4 separate regions of the Homo sapiens genome follow, and regions 1, 2 and 4 are each reported to be linked to region 3. Evidence: microRNA targets listed by miRTarBase, many of them from high-throughput screens and not tested one by one. Region 3 holds a microRNA gene; each other region holds the end of a gene's coding sequence.
What was found. Region 3 holds the annotated microRNA hsa-miR-3927-3p (CAGGUAGAUAUUUGAUAGGCAU, at 1,733-1,754, shown strand). A microRNA usually pairs through its seed, bases 2 to 8, with sites in the 3' UTR of a target mRNA and lowers its output. Matches are read on the target gene's strand: a 7mer-m8 pairs with bases 2 to 8, a 7mer-A1 pairs with bases 2 to 7 and ends in A, and an 8mer does both.

Region 1: the mRNA of CPA4 is a reported target of hsa-miR-3927-3p. Seed matches in the 3' UTR shown: 7mer-m8 at 788-794.
Region 2: the mRNA of FAM135A is a reported target of hsa-miR-3927-3p. Seed matches in the 3' UTR shown: 7mer-A1 at 3,949-3,955.
Region 4: the mRNA of SH3GLB1 is a reported target of hsa-miR-3927-3p. Seed matches in the 3' UTR shown: 7mer-m8 at 1,541-1,547 and 7mer-m8 at 523-529.

What each region holds. Positions count from the first base shown.
Region 1 is chr7:130,322,198-130,327,270 of GRCh38, forward strand. CPA4 (carboxypeptidase A4) reads left to right here. Exons shown (of 11, transcript NM_016352.4): 11 at 292-1,983. The coding sequence ends at 479. The region is part of intron 1 of LOC105375503 (a long non-coding RNA gene); the gene reads right to left. Among named protein-coding and RNA genes, the nearest start is that of CPA5, 20 kb to the right of the region's middle.
Region 2 is chr6:70,559,048-70,564,120 of GRCh38, reverse strand. FAM135A (family with sequence similarity 135 member A) reads right to left here. Exons shown (of 22, transcript NM_001162529.3): 22 at 2,947-4,405. The coding sequence ends at 4,200. Among named protein-coding and RNA genes, the nearest start is that of SDHAF4, 5.3 kb to the left of the region's middle.
Region 3 is chr9:109,508,155-109,513,233 of GRCh38, reverse strand. MIR3927 (microRNA 3927) reads left to right here and starts at 1,689; the gene lies at 1,689-1,759. It also overlaps a transcript of PTPN3 not described here.
Region 4 is chr1:86,742,446-86,747,518 of GRCh38, reverse strand. SH3GLB1 (SH3 domain containing GRB2 like, endophilin B1) reads right to left here. Exons shown (of 9, transcript NM_016009.5): 9 at 1-4,391. The coding sequence ends at 4,284. Among named protein-coding and RNA genes, the nearest start is that of SH3GLB1, 40 kb to the right of the region's middle.

The DNA.
Region 1 (5,073 bases), not on the chromosome of region 3:
TACTCTCTATAGAGATTGGTTTTGAGGGACTTACAGGACGGACACAGCGTTAGTAATAAGGTGGGAGTAGGGGTTTCAGATCTCTTGATTTGAGACCAGTGTGCACCTCAGGCCAATGCAGGATGTCCTGAGACATAGGGATCAGGCTGATGATTTTGTCATAGGACTGATGACTTGAGGAGCAAACTCTGGATTCCTTAAGGAACCCCAGGCAGGCAGAGCTCTTGGCCCCTTCCCATCTAACCCAGGAGGGAACTGGGCTTCAAGAGTGTTTTGTCCTCCGACTTACAGATCCAGCTAGCGGGAGCAGCATCGACTGGGCATATGACAACGGCATCAAATTTGCATTCACATTTGAGTTGAGAGATACCGGGACCTATGGCTTCCTCCTGCCAGCTAACCAGATCATCCCCACTGCAGAGGAGACGTGGCTGGGGCTGAAGACCATCATGGAGCATGTGCGGGACAACCTCTACTAGGCGATGGCTCTGCTCTGTCTACATTTATTTGTACCCACACGTGCACGCACTGAGGCCATTGTTAAAGGAGCTCTTTCCTACCTGTGTGAGTCAGAGCCCTCTGGGTTTGTGGAGCACACAGGCCTGCCCCTCTCCAGCCAGCTCCCTGGAGTCGTGTGTCCTGGCAGTGTCCCTGCAAGAACTGGTTCTGCCAGCCTGCTCAATTTTGGTCCTGCTGTTTTTGATGAGCCTTTTGTCTGTTTCTCCTTCCACCCTGCTGGCTGGGCGGCTGCACTCAGCATCACCCCTTCCTGGGTGGCATGTCTCTCTCTACCTCATTTTTAGAACCAAAGAACATCTGAGATGATTCTCTACCCTCATCCACATCTAGCCAAGCCAGTGACCTTGCTCTGGTGGCACTGTGGGAGACACCACTTGTCTTTAGGTGGGTCTCAAAGATGATGTAGAATTTCCTTTAATTTCTCGCAGTCTTCCTGGAAAATATTTTCCTTTGAGCAGCAAATCTTGTAGGGATATCAGTGAAGGTCTCTCCCTCCCTCCTCTCCTGTTTTTTTTTTTTTGAGACAGAGTTTTGCTCTTGTTGCCCAGGCTGGAGTGTGATGGCTCGATCTTGGCTCACCACAACCTCTGCCTCCTGGGTTCAAGCAATTCTCCTGCCTCAGCCTCTTGAGTAGCTTGGTTTATAGGCGCATGCCACCATGCCTGGCTAATTTTGTGTTTTTAGTAGAGACAGGGTTTCTCCATGTTGGTCAGGCTGGTCTCAAACTCCCAACCTCAGGTGATCTGCCCTCCTTGGCCTCCCAGAGTGCTGGGATTACAGGTGTGAGCCACTGTGCCGGGCCCGTCCCCTCCTTTTTTAGGCCTGAATACAAAGTAGAAGATCACTTTCCTTCACTGTGCTGAGAATTTCTAGATACTACAGTTCTTACTCCTCTCTTCCCTTTGTTATTCAGTGTGACCAGGATGGCGGGAGGGGATCTGTGTCACTGTAGGTACTGTGCCCAGGAAGGCTGGGTGAAGTGACCATCTAAATTGCAGGATGGTGAAATTATCCCCATCTGTCCTAATGGGCTTACCTCCTCTTTGCCTTTTGAACTCACTTCAAAGATCTAGGCCTCATCTTACAGGTCCTAAATCACTCATCTGGCCTGGATAATCTCACTGCCCTGGCACATTCCCATTTGTGCTGTGGTGTATCCTGTGTTTCCTTGTCCTGGTTTGTGTGTGTGTGTGTGTGTGTGTGTGTGTGTGTGTGTGTGTTTGTGTGTGTGTGTCTGTCTATTTTGTATCCTGGACCACAAGTTCCTAAGTAGAGCAAGAATTCATCAACCAGCTGCCTCTTGTTTCATTTCACCTCAGCACGTACCATCTGTCCTTTTGTTGTTGTTTTGTTTTTGTTTTTTTGCTTTTACCAAACATGTCTGTAAATCTTAACCTCCTGCCTAGGATTTGTACAGCATCTGGTGTGTGCTTATAAGCCAATAAATATTCAATGTGAGTTTCATGATCATCTCCTATTCTTTGCCTTCACCTGAATGGAACCAAGCTATAGTTTTGAATATGCAACTCTTTATAATGTCAGAAGTCGACTTTAATCCCTGTCTGTATCGCATGACATGTAAGAAGTCCTCCTTCATCAGGCCAAGGGGCCTCCAGGGCAATGTTACCTTGGTGATTTCACTCTGGTCCTGGGTCTAATTCTTAGCTTTTCAGCTCAAAAGCTTGATAGTCTCAGTGTCCATGTTGATTAAACTAGGGGATGCTGACTCACGCCTACAGACCTCAGATGAGGCAGATGATAAAATCAGAATGCGAATTTATTAATTTACATCGTGGCATGTAACCGGTGAGTGGATTGGATCCTCACGTCGGCCTGAGCAGTACATTCTCTCCCTGTAGGCAAGATACATGGGAAGCCAAATTATAATCAGAAGGTTGCTTAGTGAGCGGGCGTCAGAGCAAGGAAAGTTAATTAAAGTCTATGATTAGACTTTTTAATAGCACCCAGCTCTAATAGCATGATATATCCAGTTCTATAGCCAGAGCACACCTGCCAGTCAGCCAGCTGGCCGCTTGTGCTGGCTGGTCAGGACTGCCTCAGACAGTTATGCTGTGCCTCGGTAAGCATAAACAAGCTTGCCTCTGTGACTGGCCTCTGACCTGGGCCTAATTGTGATCACTCCCCTCAGACTCAGATTATCCTTCAGATTCCTTAAGGGAAAGATTTATTTTAAAATTTTATTATTATTTCTTTCTATAGAGAGATGGGGCCTTGCTATGTTGCCCAGGCTGGTCTTGAACTCCTGGCCTCAAGCAATCCTCCAACCTTGGCCTCCCAAAGTGCTGGGATTACAGATGTGAGCCACCACACCCGGCCAAGGGAAAGACTGCTTAAACGAGACATAAATGCCAGATACTATAATGAAATTAGAGCTTTTGTTCATTAAAAGATATAGAAACGGAGAAAACAAGTTAAAGGCCAGGAGAGGATGTTCACCATATTTCTAATACAAACAACAGACAAAGAATGTATGAAGAACTTCAACAAATCAATAAAGAAAGCACAGATAACCCAATAGAAAAATGCACCAAAGGTATAACGAAGCATTTCACATAAGAGGAAGCACAGGCCGTGCATGGTGGCACATCCCTATAATCCCAACACTCTGGGAGGCCGAGGTGGGAAGATTGCCTGAGCCCAGGAGTTAGAGACCAACCTGGGCAACAAAGTGAGACATTGTTTCAACAAAAATAAAAACAAAATAAAAATAAAAAATTAGCTGAGTGTGGTGGCAAGCACCTATAGTTTCAGCTACTCAGGAAGCTGAGGTGGAAGGATCACTTGAGCCCAGGAGTTTGAGACCAGCTTCAGCAACATAGTAAGACCCCGCCCCCAATGTCTCTATAAGAAAAGGAAAAAGATTATCTGGGTGTGGTGGTGTGCACCTGTAGTCCCAGCTACTTGGGAGGCTGAGGTGGGAGGATTGCTTGAGCCCAGGAGTTTGAGGCTGTAGTGAATTATGATCAAACCACTGCACTTCAGCCTTGGTGACAGAGTAAGACCCTGTCTCCAAAAAAAAAAAAAAAAAAAAAAAGAAGAAGCAGATATATCTGATCAACATATGAAAGGATGATTAGTGATTGAGGACACACAAATCAAGACTGCAATGAGATGCCATTTTATACTCATTCAATTTACAAAAATCAAAAAGTTGGAGAGGATGTGAATGGCAGAGTCTCATACCTTATTGGTGGGCAGCTGAATTAGTAAAACTACTTTACAAAACAGTTTGACATCTTCTCAAGTTTACACCTTATGATCCAGCTATTCCACCTTAGGCATGGCCTCAAGAAATTCTTGCAATTGTACAGCAGGAGACATAGGCAAGAATGTTCACAGCAACATTGTTCACAATAGTAAAAACCTAAAAATAACTCAGAATACCATCAGTGGGAGAATGGGTGAAAAAGGTATGGTACATTCACATACTGAGATATTATACAACAGTCAAAACAAAATTTAGTATGATTTCCCTTCTAGAAAGATCCAAACACCTGAAAAAAAATGTATGCATACTTTTATAGAAGATATACAAATTTTGATGAAACTATATAAAGAGAGAAGCAAGCCATAGTGGACATATCCAGACCCCGCTTCCTGGCTGAATGCACAGATCCCAGTGGCTGTTAAGTATTGGCTGCCAATGTTCAGGGCTACATCCCTCTCTAAAGAATTGCTCTTGGCCAAATGGGGGTTGCCTCACCCAGGAGGCTGTGCACCTGTCTTTTCTTTTACCATCATCCCAAATGTCCACCCATGACAGACTGGCTCAGGCGTACACACAGCTAGCTCTTTGCTTCAAGGTGGGATCAACACTTTGGCGCAACAAGTGTTCCAGAGCTCCCATGGGGTCGGGCTAGAGCTCCAGATGATTTCAGGCAAGTCATCCTTGCTTAGCTTTTTTTCCTGCCCCACCTGTTTTCCTCACTCTCCTCCTGAGACAACTCCCCTTCATATCACTTGCATAAGAATCTCCATCTTGCGTTCTGCTTTTAGGAAGACTAAGACAACAGGAAATGGAGAACCTGGGATTCCTGAATGATGATTCCTTCAAATGGGGAGAGGTAGAGGATGAGAGAGGGACAGGGCCCTATGGTTAGAGGACAAAGCTTAGCTTTTGTCTTAGATTCTGCTTTTTCAGGTGTTTATTACGTGATTTTTTTTTTTAAAGTAGAGACAAGGGTCTCCCTATGTAGCTTAGGTCAGTCTTGAACCCTTGGCCTCAAGTAATTCTCCTGCCTTGGCCTCCCAAAGTGCTGGGATTACAGGTGTGAGCCACTGCACTCAGCCTATTATATGATTTTTTTAAAAACCTAATTAAGTAGCTAAATAAATAATTAAAAGAGGACCATGCGGCTGGGCATGGTGGCTCACGCCTGTAATCCCAGCACTTTGGTAGGCCGAGGCAGGCAGATCACGAGGTCAGGAGATCGAGACCATCCTGGCTAACACGGTGAAACCCCGTCTCTACTAAAAAAAAATAGAAAAAAAATTAGCCAGGTGTGGTGGCGGGCACCTGTAGTCCCAGCTACT
Region 2 (5,073 bases), not on the chromosome of region 3:
GAACGAGGTGAGAAAATACACTTTGGGATACTGCCCTAAAGGATTTGTCATATTTTCCAAATGAGTCAACGGTATTTGGTGATATATCTTCTGTTGACAGAATAACAGAGATCAAAGAGTAGAAAAGGGTCTGACTTCTTACTATTGCATATGACTTACTGATATAAAATATATTTTGCTTTCCATTGTAGTAGAGAAGAGACAAGCTCCGAAGGCCCCTGAACATGCCTGTATATTATTACTGAGTGTGCCAGACTGCAAGCCGTATCCATCTCCTGATGCTAAGCAGTTTCTGTAGTTAGTCATATAGGCACCTAAGTAGGTCAAGGCAATCACAGCATTACTACCATTTAACTGCTGCTCCCTGGGGGAGAGAGACTAGCTTGTTTGTTGTTTGCTCAAAAACTGCTTGATTCTTGATCCTGGATTCTTCTGTAATGCAACCCCCCATGTGCACAGACGTCATCCGGCCCTCTGCATCACACTGTGGGAATTGGGCTACGGGAACTGATGCAAATATGCGGACACTCTGGCTTCTATTTTGCTGTAATAAAGCTGTTTTGTCTTTTGTCCAGGAGTATCCTGTCATCATCCATGAAACTGCAGCAACCTAGCCTGTAACCTTGCAAGTAGGATAAAATCTCAGACCCTTCACTACTCTTGCTAGCCATCTCTGAGTCCAGGTTCTGTTGGTATAGCAATTTTTGTGCCCAGCTGGAATTGCCACCCAGCCATTTTGACCTCATTCCTCTAGGTAAGGTTAGAGAAAGTGGTGATGGTGCTAGCTGGAGTGATTGGCCCTGATGACCATGGAGAAAAGAGAGTAGGGAGAACAGTATAACCAGAAGTCAGGGGGGTCTCCTGGAATCCCTCCTCACAATACCATGTTTTTATATTTTATTTTAAAAAATACCATGCTGAATGGTAACATTTACATATAAGACTATTACAACCATATATAGGCAAGACCACCCACACCTCAGATCCTCTGTCATCCACTGGATACATAAATCTGATCAGCAGAGGTGCTGCTTGAACATAAAGAAAACAGAAAATAGTTGGCAGTGGTGAGAAGTCATAACCATCTAGATTCACGACCACTGACAGGACTAAGTACTGTATTTGCGACGTGTTATTAGAGAAATTTGGGACATAAAACATGCTGCTGCTTTTACACTATCCTGAAAATTCTGATTCAGGTGGTCCGTAATAAGGTCCTAGAATGTGTATTTTTAAAGTAGTCTAGGTAATTCTTGGCACGGACATTGCAAAGCCCTGCTCTATTTTGTTTTCTTCCTCACTGGCTCATGCATGTTTATAAAATTTTCTCTTATTTCATATGTATATATATATTTGAGTTGGGGGGTCTCCCTGTCGCCCAGGCTGAAGTGCAGTAACTCACTGCAACCTTGAACTCCTGGACTCAAGTGATCCTCCCACCTCAGTCTTCCAAGTAGCTGGGACTACAGGTGCATGCCACCAGGCTCACTTAAATTATTTTCTAGAGATGGGGTCTTGCTATGTTGCCCAGGCTGGTCTTGAATTCCTAGCTCAAGTGATCCTCTCACCTCAGCCTCCCAAAGTGCTGGGATTACAGTCATAAGCCACCACGCCCAGCTTCTTTCCTATTATACTGTTATTATGTATAGGGGTGGTGGTTAGGTCACAATTTTGTCTATGAGTTGCACACTATTGAGATGAGATTATTACAGAATCAGAGAACATCACACTGAGGTCCTGGACTTAAAACTGGATGAGGGATAGTAGTACTATGTCAGAAAGATGCATTTTAAATGTGTAAATATGGAGAGAATTATGCTTGCAGATGTTGGGAAGACAAAAAGATGGACTATATTACACCTGATGTGTTTTTATATTTGGTGCTGTCATCAAACCCATTTCATATGTTTGGTTAACCTTGGTAGAATAAAGGGTCCCATTTTCTACTGTGGAAACTAACGAGGTCAGATACATCTGCTGTCTTTGATGCCTGACAGCCCAAGCACTGGCACAAGACTTAAACTTGGTCAGTTGGACATTCTACTACGCTTTGAATCTGAAGTGATAAAACAAGTACTTGAAATCCAGTTTCCAGGGTCATCCTGGCTAGAGAAGAATACAGTCATTTAGCTCTGAGGTCATCAGAACTTGGCTATGCTTTTGGTCATCTACTTTCCTTTGGCTTCTATTTGTTTTCCAAACCTGGCTCTCTAGCCTTTCCATCAATTCTGTGAGCTACCTGATCCTCCTCCAATAAATTCTTTTTCTGTTTAGGTTGATCATAATTTTTTTTGTTGTTTGCAACCAAGAACTCTTACTGGTATACTTCAATGAGATTCATTCTCTAAAGTAAGAGTCAATAATACCATTTCAGATCATTGTTTCCTCTCTCCCCCATAACTGTACCCCATCTCCCACAATCTGAATTTGGAGGTGAATAGTGTGTGGTGGTTTCCCAGATAAATCAAGTAAGTTAAATTTGTTAGATTTTAAACCATGAACACAGATGTGCTTTTAGAACTGTATTAAAATAACCAAAAACTAATCAATCAACTATGATAAGAGCAATTTCCACTCAAATACTATTTATATGATTGAGTCCTTTGATAAACCTGAAAATTATCCAAACTTTGAATATGCACATTTCAAACTCAGAGCCAAGATATAGGAATATAAAAAATGTGCTTGGCAAAAATATGTGGTGGCTAATTAATATATTTACATTTTCTAGTTATAATGCACTTGGGATATTAGTTTATAAAAATTTTGAGTACTTTCTAAAAAGTAAATAATTATCAATAGCAATCAAAATTATTTTAACTATAATAATATATACAAAAGATATAAAAATACAAAGGCTACAAGTTATATAATTAGGCTGGTCTATGTTATAAATAAAATATATATACCTCTAGTATTCAGAGAATAAGCAAAGGATTACAAGGGTTGTAGCTGTTCCTCCAGATAGCCATTTGTTCATTTATTAACACCAGAGGCAATAACAACGCTAAAAATAAACATGCATCAATTGTACAATAAATACTTACAAAAACCTCTGTCTGTCACAATTAGTGAGTGCAAACAGAACTTCTACCCAACCTTAGTGCATTTTTATTTTCACAAGTAAAACAGAAAAGGAAAATAGTGAATTTAATGCTATTCAGCACCTTTAGTAAAGTCAAAAGACTCAACATCTCCATATATCAAAAACATTTGCATCTGTATCACCAAACATGTAAAGTTAATTATTTTGTTCCATCTTTAACATGAATTATTTTATTTACATTACTTTTTAGTTCAATAAATTTTAACAATATTTAAAAATTATCTAAATTCATAAAAGTATTTCATAAATTTCAACATTTAATTATTATGTACATATAAGGAAGTCCATGAAAAAAGTTAAAAGAAAATGTAGTCATAAAGTTCAAGCAACATTACCAATTTAGCAAAAATTCCAACCAAATCAAGGCAGAGGGCATTCAAACATTCAAAAATCTTTATCTGCTGCCAACATGTACAGGAACATTTCCAGTAATAAAAGTCAGTATGAGAAATAATGTTGAAATCACCAGTAGAAAATATATTTTAATAGGCATGAAATATGTTTAAGCAACAGTAATGACTTTATAGAAAACTTGTATTACACTGTTTTATATGAACTACCTGGTTTGATTGTATGATAAAGTTGTATTTTAGAACTACAGAAGTTGATTTCAAAAAATATATTGTAGCAGCCATAATTTTATTTCCAGTTAAAACACAGTAAAATGTGAAAAGAAAAATTTATAATTAACTAAATAATACCCCCAGTATTAGAAAATTTTAAATCCCATGCTATTCTAGCAATAATGGTCTCTAATATAATGTAGTCTGATGTAAGAATTGTGGAAAGCCAATAATAAACAATCAGACACAGGTATGGGCTTAAAGTTTCACTGAAATACTTAGGTAGCAAAATATATGAAAAAGTAATAGAAAAGTAAAAAGATAAAATTAAAAAAATATTGCACAGCCACATTACCTAGAAAGTAAAGTTGATGTTTAAAAAGCACTAAACATGGATGATATAAATTATCTTCCATATAAAAAGGTATAAATATTTCTTAGAACTTATCAGCATCTACATTTTAATATAATACATTATTTGAAACATTGTTGAATGAGGTAATTGTCCAGTCGCTAACAATGCTTTTATACTATTGGAAATATTTGAGGGCAGCAACCAGAAAGAATTTCTCTAAAAATATTTCCGAATCAAGAACAGCTATATGTGCAGCTCTCCCAATGAGTGAATCAGCTGTATTGGGCAATGCATTGATGACATTATAGCGAACCAAATTACAGTCCTTGCTTTGCAGAACGGGTCGAAGCAAGTTGTGGATCATTTCTGAATAGATCTGTCCTATGGAACCAACAGAAAAAAGGAAAATTAGTTCACAATAGTAACTGAAAATAAAAAAACTATGCCAATTTTTAGATAAGTTATAAAATTTAGTTACATTATTTCCATATAAAGCAGAAAAATGGCTCTTTTTAAAAAGGTTTAATTTTCCTTCAACTATCATTTTTGGTTCTGTTTATAGAAAATGTAAGTAATCACATTATCTAGTCAAGTGGAAATAACAAATTTATTATACATTATTCTTGAAATTTGATTTTTTTTTTTTTTTATTTTTGAGATGGAGTTTCACTCTTGTTGCCCAGGCTGGAGTGCAATGGTGTGGTCTTGGCTCACTGCAACCTCTGCCTCCCGGGTTCAAGCCATTCTCCTGTCTCCGCCTCCTGAGTAGCTGGGATTACAGGCATGCACCACCACACCCAGTTAATTTTTGTATTTTTAATAGAGTTGGGGTTTCACCATGTTGGCCAGGCTGGTCTCGAACTCCTGACCTCAGGCGATCCTCCCGCCTCAGCCTCCCAAAGTGCTGGGATTACAGGCGTGAGCCCCTGCGCCCAGCCGAAATTTGGTATTTTTAACTCAAAGCAATGCCTATAACAAAGAAATAGTTTTCTTTAATGTTAAGTCACTTATAACTCATTAAACAATTATGAAAATAAGCTAGACATGGT
Region 3 (5,079 bases):
AGCCTGGGAAACACAGCAGGACTTTGTCTCTACTAAAAAAAAAAGAAATTTAAGATAAATTAGCCAGATGTGGTACACATACCTGTAGTCCCAGCTACTCAGGAGTCTGAGGTGGGAGAATTGCTTAGACCCAGGAGGTTGAGGCTGCAGTGAGCCGTGTTTGTGCCACTGCACCCCAGTCTGGGCAACAGAGTGAGACCCTGTTTCAATAATAATTAATGAATTAAGAACATTTCAGATATAATACACAGCTTGAGCCAGGGCTAGTCAAAGATGTGAACCAGCCTACTGCATTAGTGTTTTGGAAGGGCTGACACTTAGGGGCAGGAGGAGGGAGGGAAAAGGACCAGGGGAAGGAAAGAACAAGGTAATGCAGGGTTCAGAGCACACAGTGCTTTAAACACCATGTGCAGGAATAAGAAATGTGTCCACGGTTTCCCTTCTCTGAAACATTTTGTGTAGGAGGTCCCAAAGGCCTGTCTCTCCCTGATTAAGGAGGAACAAGGTACCTCCTAAAGAACCCTGAATAATTACCTAAAAATAGATAAACAATTTTAATCTCCTTTATGTCATACTTATGATTAAAGTCTTAAAAATCCTGTGCTTGGTGTTTCCGGTTTCAATGTGTGGTCACACACCTTACCTCATGTAGTCTTCATGGCATTCAGGAAGCAGGTGTTACCAAATTTTGTTTGACAGATGAGACACTGAGATTTAGGAGTCCCTAACAAACATTTCTTGACGTAAAAATGAAAGCTGTCTTTTAAAAAGCTTTAAAGATTAGTGTGATAATGTTTAACTGAGTAGGTGTGTGTTCTTCTCAGGAGTGAGAAAAGTGTGTTTGGCTGCCAGATGGCTTTTGGAGACTTGTGTTGGTTAGGCCAGCAAAAATGCCCTCCAATCTGTGGACCAGCTGCACCAGCTGCACCCAGGAGCTTCTTAATAATGTAGAGTGTGAGTCTCCCCCTCCAGAGGTTTTCAGATTTGGTAGGTCAGGGGTGAGAATCTGGAAGGAATATCGTTAAAAAGCTCCTCAGGTAATTCTGATGCACGGCCAGGTGGAAGATTGGTCAATTGCCTCTTTTGGTTGCAAGGATAATTTGAGGCCCTGATGATAAAAATGTGGTCTGCAAGCCACCTGTCTCAGCATCACTCAGATGCAGTTTCCTGGACCTCGCCCTACCAAATTAGACCTACCAAATTAGAAATCTCCAGAGGTGGGCATATTTTAAACAAACTCCCAAGATCCATTTGTTCATTTATTTACAAATATTTCTTCAGGTCTAGGTATGTGATAAACACCATTCCAGGAACTGGGATATAAAGGCAAATGAGGCCAACAATGTCTCTCCCCTAAAGACACTTGAATTTTGACCCAGCTCTTTGAATGCTGGAGTTTGAGAACCACTATCTTAAAATAATACAGGGATTCAACCAAAGTTCCTATTGGGACTGCCTCAGTTATCCATTGCTGGTAACAAAACACTGCTAAAACTTAGTGGCTGAAAATGACAATGATTTTTCCCGTCCTCATGATGCAATGTGTTGGCTGGTTGATTCTCCTACAGGTCTGCTCTGGGTTCGACTGAGATAAACCTGGCCTGGCTGGGCCCCTCTCCATGAAGTTGTTCATCTCAGGCTTCTTAGGGCATGGTGGTTTCAGGTTTCCAAGAGGGCCAACCCCAATATGCCAATGCCTATCACATATCTGCCTGTCCTATGACAAACATGGCAGGTAGATATTTGATAGGCATTGGCACACTGGCAAAACGAAGTCCTATGGCCATGCTCAGCCTCAGCATGAAAGGGGAATTCACAGGAGTGTAGACACCAGAGAGTCACTTCTTTGGGGATCACTGCATTCTGTCAAAGTTACTGTGGCTGCCCCTTGAACCTGGCATCTCTTTGTGTATCTTCTCACTTCCCCACTGTTCTCTAGTTTAAACTCCTAGGTGAAGGAATCCAATTGGTCTTGCTAAGCACGTCCATGGCTCACAGTCACCCCTACTCATGGGGATTTTAGGACTCAGCAGGATTGCAAGCAGAGCTGGTGTAAAGGAGATGAGAAGGACACTAGGGGTATCTTAAGCACCATGGCTGAACCTCCCATAGGATAGTCATAAAATTCCCATGGTCAGTGCTTTAATCACCTTGATATAAAAATATGCCCCTAAATATTTTATGTATTTGTTGCTGGGAGCAAAGTTAAAGTTTTGTGTTTGATATTGATTACATGGATTTTTTTAATGTTTCTTTTTGATTTTTGGAATAACACATATATGTTGTAGAAGTTTTAAAAATACAAAAACGAAAATTAAAATCACTAGTCATAGCATTATCTAGAAAAACCTTTTAGCACATTTGCTTTCACATTTTTGCTCATAAATGTGTTCTTCTTTACAGAATTAGGCCAGCAATACAGCTTTCTGTCTTACACTCTTTGAATGCTGGAGTTTGAGAACCACTATCTTAAAATAATGCAGTGATTCAACAGGAGTTGAATCACTAGCATTATCACTAGTGCTAGCATTTTCCCACGTGATTACAATCTCCTCGTAAAATAATTTTGAGTTATATAACAATCAGTGAGACATACTATTTCATAATCATACAGTTGCTTGTTTCATATATATATATATATATATATATATATATATTTTTTTTTTTTTTTTTTTAAGACAAAGTTTCGCTCTTGTTGCCCAGGCTGGAGTGCAATGGCGCAATCTCGGCTCAATGCAACCTCTGCCTCCGGGGTTCAAGGGATTCTCCTGCCTCAGCCTCCTGAGTAGCTGGAATTACAGGCATGCACCACCACACCTGGCTAATTTTGTAGTTTTAGTAGAGACAGGGTTTCTCCATGTTGGTCAGGCTGGTCTCGAATTCCCGACCTCAGGTGATCTGCCCGCCTTGGCCTCCCAAAGTGCTAGGATTACAAGTGTGAGCCACCACGCCCAGCTGTTACATATTTTTTGGCAATTATCAGCAGTGCTATAATGACTCATTTCTGTTCATAAGCCTTTATCTGCATTTGGATTTTTCCATTGAATAGATGGGGTTCATATCTTTTCTTTATATAGCACAGTTTTTAAGATTACTTCAATGTTTCCTAATAAATAGCTAAAGAGATATTTTCCCTCCTGAATGGGACCAACACTTCCCTCTGCTGCATATGCCATATGGCTTTGCAGAATGGGTCTATTTCCTTTTGCTCCATTTCCTCTTGTTTGACAGGCCTTGTCTATCCCCATTTCCTTGTGGGTACAAAAGAGAGCCGGGCTGGGTTACGTTTTCAGTGACTTTACCAGAACTACAGACAGAGCTGTACATGTTCCCACGGTCACCTCTTTATCCAAACCATGGAAAACTGCCCTTTTTTTTTTTCCTTTCCATAACTGGCACAAGCTGTGTTTGGGTCAGGAACCCAACATCAACTACAAAGACTGACCTCCACCCAGGGAACTTGAGAAGAAGCTAGATAACACTGTTGGGAAATTATTCCCTCATGTGAATTGGCATTTGAATATGTGCTAGTATTATGCACATTTTTAAAATATCACTGAACTAAATGTAATGGAAAATAATACACTGGCCTTAGTAAGTCAAGGAACTTGGCCTGACGGGCATATCAATAAGGCAACCCAATGTCAACTAATTCACTCACTCATCACACTCTCAGTAAGTGCTAGATTCTATCCAGGAGCCCAGCATAAGAAAAGATGTTAGACAGTTAACAGTTGGAGTAGCAGACTTAAACAACTGTATATAATGTGTTAAAGTGAGAATCTAGTAGATAATGCAGAGGGAGAGGCCCCTGAGCCTATCTAGGTAATCAAAGAAAGCTGGTTACTGCAGATTGCGCAGGATTGAGAGAAATATGAAGGTTGCCTCAATGCATTTACCCTACAGTGTGAGAATAAAATACTGTCACAGAGGCTGACAACACTGGGGCAGCTTCCCATGATTGATACTGCACTATATACAATTCTAGATTGCAATGAAATCAAAACCATGAGACACTAAGAGGGTTTTAGCTTCCCTTTATTTCCTGATAATTTCAATGAGGGATTTTACAGACTTTTTAATTCTTCTGCTCAAATATGGAGGTCATAGGCCCCAGAGCTGGTTTGGAATTAGCTCACTCAGCAATACAGGTGGACAACAAAAGAATGTGCCCTTCACCTGTAGATCTTCCTTTAAAAATAAATAGAGATGGGGTCTCACTATGTTACCCAGGCTAGTCTCAAACTCCTGGCCTCAAGCAATCCTCCCACCTCGACCTCCCAAAGCACTGGGATTACAGGCATGAGCCACTGCCCACCTGCAGACCTTCTAACACAACTAGATGACTCTTGGGTGTGGAGGTTGGTGGGTGGGGGGGGGACATCCTGACTTACTTGTTACACATAGGCAAGAAATTTAGAGTGCACAGTGATATCCAATCACAGATTAGTTATACCTTATTTGGGACACTGCTGGACACATCTTTCTACATCTATCTATATCTCTTTTCTATCTACTGATTGATTATTAAGCTAGCAAGAAAAATTCTGGAAGGACTTTGACAAAGAACCTTTAGATACAACATCACCCTTCTTGCTCACTGCAGAAAAGCAAGCAATTTTTTTGTAAGGGGCACATAGCCCTTCACATATCTTGCTTAGACATAATAGTCACAGCCTAAATGGCTTCAGGAAGATCTTTCTGAAAGGGGCACACACATTGATAACTCAATGCAAGTCAAAATGTGATGAGAAGCATAAAAGAAAACAGAACAGGCCAGGCGCGGTGGCTCAAGCCTGTAATCCCAGCACTTTGGGAGGCCGAGGCAGGCAGATCACAAGGTCAGGAGATTGAGACCATCCTGGCTAACACGGTGAAACCCCATCTCTACTAAAAATACAAAAAATTAGCCAGGCATAGTGGCAGGCGCCTGTAGTCCCAGCTACTTGGGACGCTGAGGCAGGAGAATGGCATGAACCCGGGAGGCAGAGCTTGCAGTGAGCCAAGATCGCGCCGCTGCACTCCAGCCTGGGTGACAGAGCGAAACGCCATCTCAAAAAAAAAAAAAAGAGAGAGAGA
Region 4 (5,073 bases), not on the chromosome of region 3:
ACAGGGCACTGTTGTTGGTTAAGGGTTACAGAAGGCAGAGAGGATTTTTCAAGTGATGTCAGAGAATAGGCCTGAAGGTGAAATGAATGTTCTCTTAGTTCTATTGCAGTGGTTCTCAAGCTTAGAGTGCAACAGTATTACTCAAACAGCTTTTACAACAGATTGCTGGGCTCCACTCTCAGAGTTTGATTCAGTAGGTCTCTGAAAAGGCTTATAAATTTGCATTTTTCTTTCATTCAACAAAAATTTATTGAGTTCATACTATGTCCTAGATCTTGTGCTAAGAGTTGGGAATGTAACTGCCATCAAAAGAATTATAGTTTTTATCTCAGGGAGCCTACATTCTAGAGTGACAGATATACACTAAACAAATAAATTATAAAAATAACTATAATTACAATGACTACTGCTAGAACACAATTAAGATTAGAAGACTCAGTTTTTGTCTTAAAATATTTAAAAAGCTGTCACATGGAAGACTGATTCCATGAGCCCTTGAAAACAAAAAATAAGTAAAAATGAAGGTAGAAAGTTCTTGAAAATAGTAATCAGCATTTTAAACAAGTCTCCAGGAGATGCCAATATTGCCGGTCTGGGGTCTCACACTTTGCCAATCACTGCTCTACTGAGTAGACATTTTTTCTTTCCTTGAGACAAGAGTCTTATTCTATCACCCAGGTTGGAGTGCAGTGGTGCAATCTTGGCTCACTGTAGCCTCTGCCTCTGGGGTTCAAGTGATTCTCCTGCCTCAGCCTCCCGAGTAGCTGGAATTACAGGTGCACGCCACCATGCCCGGCTAATTTTTATATTTTCAGTAGAGACAGGGTTTCCCCATGTTGGCCAGGCTGGTCTCGAACTCCTGACCTCAGATGATCCACCCGCCTCAGCCTCCAAAGTGCTGGGATTACAGGCATGAGCCACGGCACCCAGCCCTGAGTAGACTTTCTAATGAGCGTAATATGGGAGAAAGGGCAGGGGTGGTTGTGGAACTCTCTCTCCAGCGTTTGAGACTCACATGAGGTAAAAGCCACTTCATCTTATCTGGAGGTCTTGAGGCAAAGTTGGCTATAGGCTAAACTATGAAGCTATCTCTCCATTACAGCACCTCACTGAAGCTTAAAGTGCTAAATAGTAGGGCAATATTTCAGAATTTCAGGTGTTTGGGAGATAGGGAAGGAATTTTTCTGGAATTCTGTCAGCATGGAGGTGAGTGGGGCCTCTATGGGTAAACAAGTCTGTGGGTTTTTGCCTTGCCCTCCATTGTCTTCTCCACTCCACAGTTTATCCCAGAAATGTTTCCCCAACACTAGCTTCCCAGTCTCACTTTGTTCTTTGTTCAGGGGGAGGATAACAGGAGACTATGAAGATGACTCTACCCCACTGGTGATCCTGGCCTCAGGATTTATTTCCCATGTGACGCAGAGTGAGGAGGCACATTCCCATTTTTGAGACCTCATTTCTTGCAACATCAATTTTTCTGATTAGCACCATAAAAAGTTTTAACACCATGACCGTTTAGGTTAGATTACTTTGAGGAAAAAGGTAGACACAATCCAATCACTTTTTTTTTCATTTATAGAAGAGCCTACAATTATTTTAGTTTTTCATTCATATGTGCATCCTTCACATGTCACTATACTTTCAGATTAAGCTCAGTGGCACAGAGCTTATTTAAACAATTCTGAACTGCACCATGAATTAATAGGCTTCCCAAGCTTTTTCTTCCACGCCCAAGAAACTTCAGGCCTTTACCTGAGTAAAAACTAAACTTGACTTTAAAATAAGCCAAAACCAAAATAAAACCCAAACAACCAAACCCCATTAAAATAAAAAGCAATAAACCTAAGAACAAGCATATATATTGTGGTGGTTCTGTGGTAGACAAACGTACCAGAAGCCTTTGAAGCTTAACATTATTGAAGGTTTCTGTACATTACTGGGTAACTAAAATCAACTTTCACTTGATGGAAAGCTGAAAGTTCTGAAAAATGATTTATACTGACTGTGGGAAGGTTAAACCTGGGGTCTGATTTAAAGAGGGTGGAGGATAGGATTGATAGAGAGAAAACAGAGCCCAGATGTAAAAGAGGTATCTCTGGTGCACAGTGATATGCAAGGCCTATAGACTTGGTAGGTCAGGATGCTACAGGGGCTAACAAGGGGAAACTGATATTTACAGGATGTGTTTACTATGTGCCAAGCCTTTCCCTGAAAGGCACCTGAAATACAAGATAACATTTGCTAATCCTCACAACCACCCTATGGTGTCATAATTATTGTCCTCATTTTACTGGTAAGGAAAAGGCAGTTATACATCTCATTTGAAGCTTAAAGAGCACAATATGTGAGGAAGACTGGATTTGAACCCAGGACCATTTCACTCCATTACCGATATTCTTTCCCCTGTATTACTACATTTCCCATAAACCTAATTCATAGTTGCTGTTTAAGTCGATCTGAAGTTTTGGTATGATCTTTCAAAGCCTAAATCTGGACTTATAAAACACAATAGATGGTACTCTAGGCTGTAGAACTTCCTTTCTGAGGGGAGAGAAAATTTCATTTACTTGGTTTTACAGAAAACTGACCAGCTTGAGCAGCTTTTCAGGGTTTCTTTAAGAATATGGCAATTGAGAGTGAGTCAAAACATCTTGTACAACTATAAAACTGCAGAAGAATTTGTCTCATGGCACAGAAATAAAAGGGTAACTACTACTTTTAAAGTTTAGACTGTGAGTTAAATTGTCAACATGTTTACCAAGTTCTTATTAGGAGCTCTTAACACAAAATTTTAAAACGGTGTTTAAGTATTCATTTTTTTAAAAGTACCAAAAAGTATCATTTTAATAGCTTAACATTCCCTCAATAAATGAACTATACTTTTGTACTTCATGCTTAAGTTAGAGTAAATTGCTTTAGTTGTCAGAATGTGCTATGCTATCTTGGTTACACATCTTTTTATCTGGAACAGTTCTTCCCCAGACCCTCTCTCACTCCCAAAACTGGAGTTACATGACTCCCAAATACAGTACCTTGTATTTTCCCCATCACACCACGAATCCTACTATAGGATAATTGCTTAATTTTCTGTATCCTTTAATGGTCTTTAAGCTCTGCAGGGGCAAGAACTGTGTGCATATTGTTCAGGACAGTATCCCCAGTTGACCAGCACAGTATCTGGCCCTCAACAAATGTTTGTTGAATGAATGAATTAGAACAGAAGTCTTAACATGGAAACAATGATTTATAGCAATGGCCCCAACAGCAATTTTCTAGCTTCCAATGTGTCACTAATAATTTCATTAGTATGTGTTTCATAAGCAGAGATCCTCATCAAGATAGCCTGTGTTCATTAATAAATTTTCAATGTTTTAATAGTAAGCTCAGAGTGACCCAATTTATTTTGTTCGTATACAATTTATAATGTAGTTGCATTATTCCGTATTTGTATACAAATCTGCTGTTCAATAAGAACACATTCTCTTTACTGTACCACAGTACAGTAAATGGATCCAATCCCAATTATGCATTAAATTGTGCCAACTGAATAATCTTAAAAACTTTATGTTTAATGAAGTAAATTTGTCCTAGATTTTCTAGAACCTTAACTACAAATTTATCAGAGAAATACGGTATTGCTTTTCAAGAACTAGTTGTTCTTAAATTTAAAAGAAACCATTCAGTAGTGTTTAAAAAACCAAACAACTCTGAAAATAACCCATCAAAACATAATATTAAAATCATTTGATTTCTGTTGGAAAACCAGGTAAACATAGTTTAAATGCGTTTTTGTCTATGAAAGCATTCAGAAAATTCTACTTTTCACAAAAGAGGTTTATATCCTACAGCTCTTTTTAAGACCGAAAGTTTAAAATAAATTTTAATTTTATTCTTTGGCTATTATTTATACCTAATAAATGAGTCGCTGATATCAATTCACAATAGATTTATTTTACATAAAAGAAAAAGCTTGCTGTTAATGAAAAATCCAGTAGAAAACAGTTCTGCTTTAAGTTGAGGCTCAAAAGTAGAAGCTGCTTATTAGTGAAACCTCAATAAAAAGAGAATTTTGTAAGAAAACATTCTTGGCATGAAAGCTCTAACATAAATTCTGTAATGAAATATTTACCATGCAACTTTATTGGCAGAAAGGCCAGTTTCTGATGGCTGGTATTTTCAGTCTCTTAACACATTAACATGGAAGATACTTAACCTGCTTTATTTAGAGTTAATTGTATATAAATACAAAGTCATGATGGGCAACCTTTCCATAGTCCACCTACTTAATTGAGCAGTTCTAAGTAGGTAATTGGCACCTTGCCCTTCTGGTTTCCCCTTTCCCCCATTAGCCAGTCTGAATCCATTCCAACAACACTGAACACAGTGATCACCTGCAAAATAAAATACTTCCAGTTATTAACTACATTAAAAAAATAAACAAGTAGAAAACCAATCAGATTTGTATTTAATTTGTTTAAATTATTCACCAAAAGGACTTTAAACGTTATTATCAATTGTGCTGAAAAACAAAGGATTTATTTATTATTATTAGTTTTTTGAGGCAGGGTCTCACTCTGTTGCCCAGGCTGTAGTGCAGCAGCATGATCACGGCTCACTGCAGCCTTGACCTTTCGTGTTCAAACGATCCTCCCACCTTAGCCTCCTGAGTAGCTGGGACTACAGGCGCACACCACCATGCCCAGCTAATTTTTCATATTTTTTGTAGAGATGAGGTGTCGCTATGTTGCCCAGGCTGGTCTTGAACTCCTGGCCTCAAGTGATCCCACTGCCTTGGCCTCCCAAAAGTGCTGAGATTACAGGTGTAAGCCACCATGTCTGGCCTAGATAAAGGATCTTATTGGAGGGAGTTTTATACATCTTCAAGTTATTTGGCAGTTAAAAGTTTTAAATATTTCTATGATATTCTATTAAAGAATATTAATTAAAATTTTATGTTAATATAACTATCTGTAATCTATGAAACCATTTCCAAATAACTAATGAGGAATTTGCATTTTGTTATAATATTAGAAGGTATGTCAATTCGTGATATATTTTCCTTCTCATACCCAC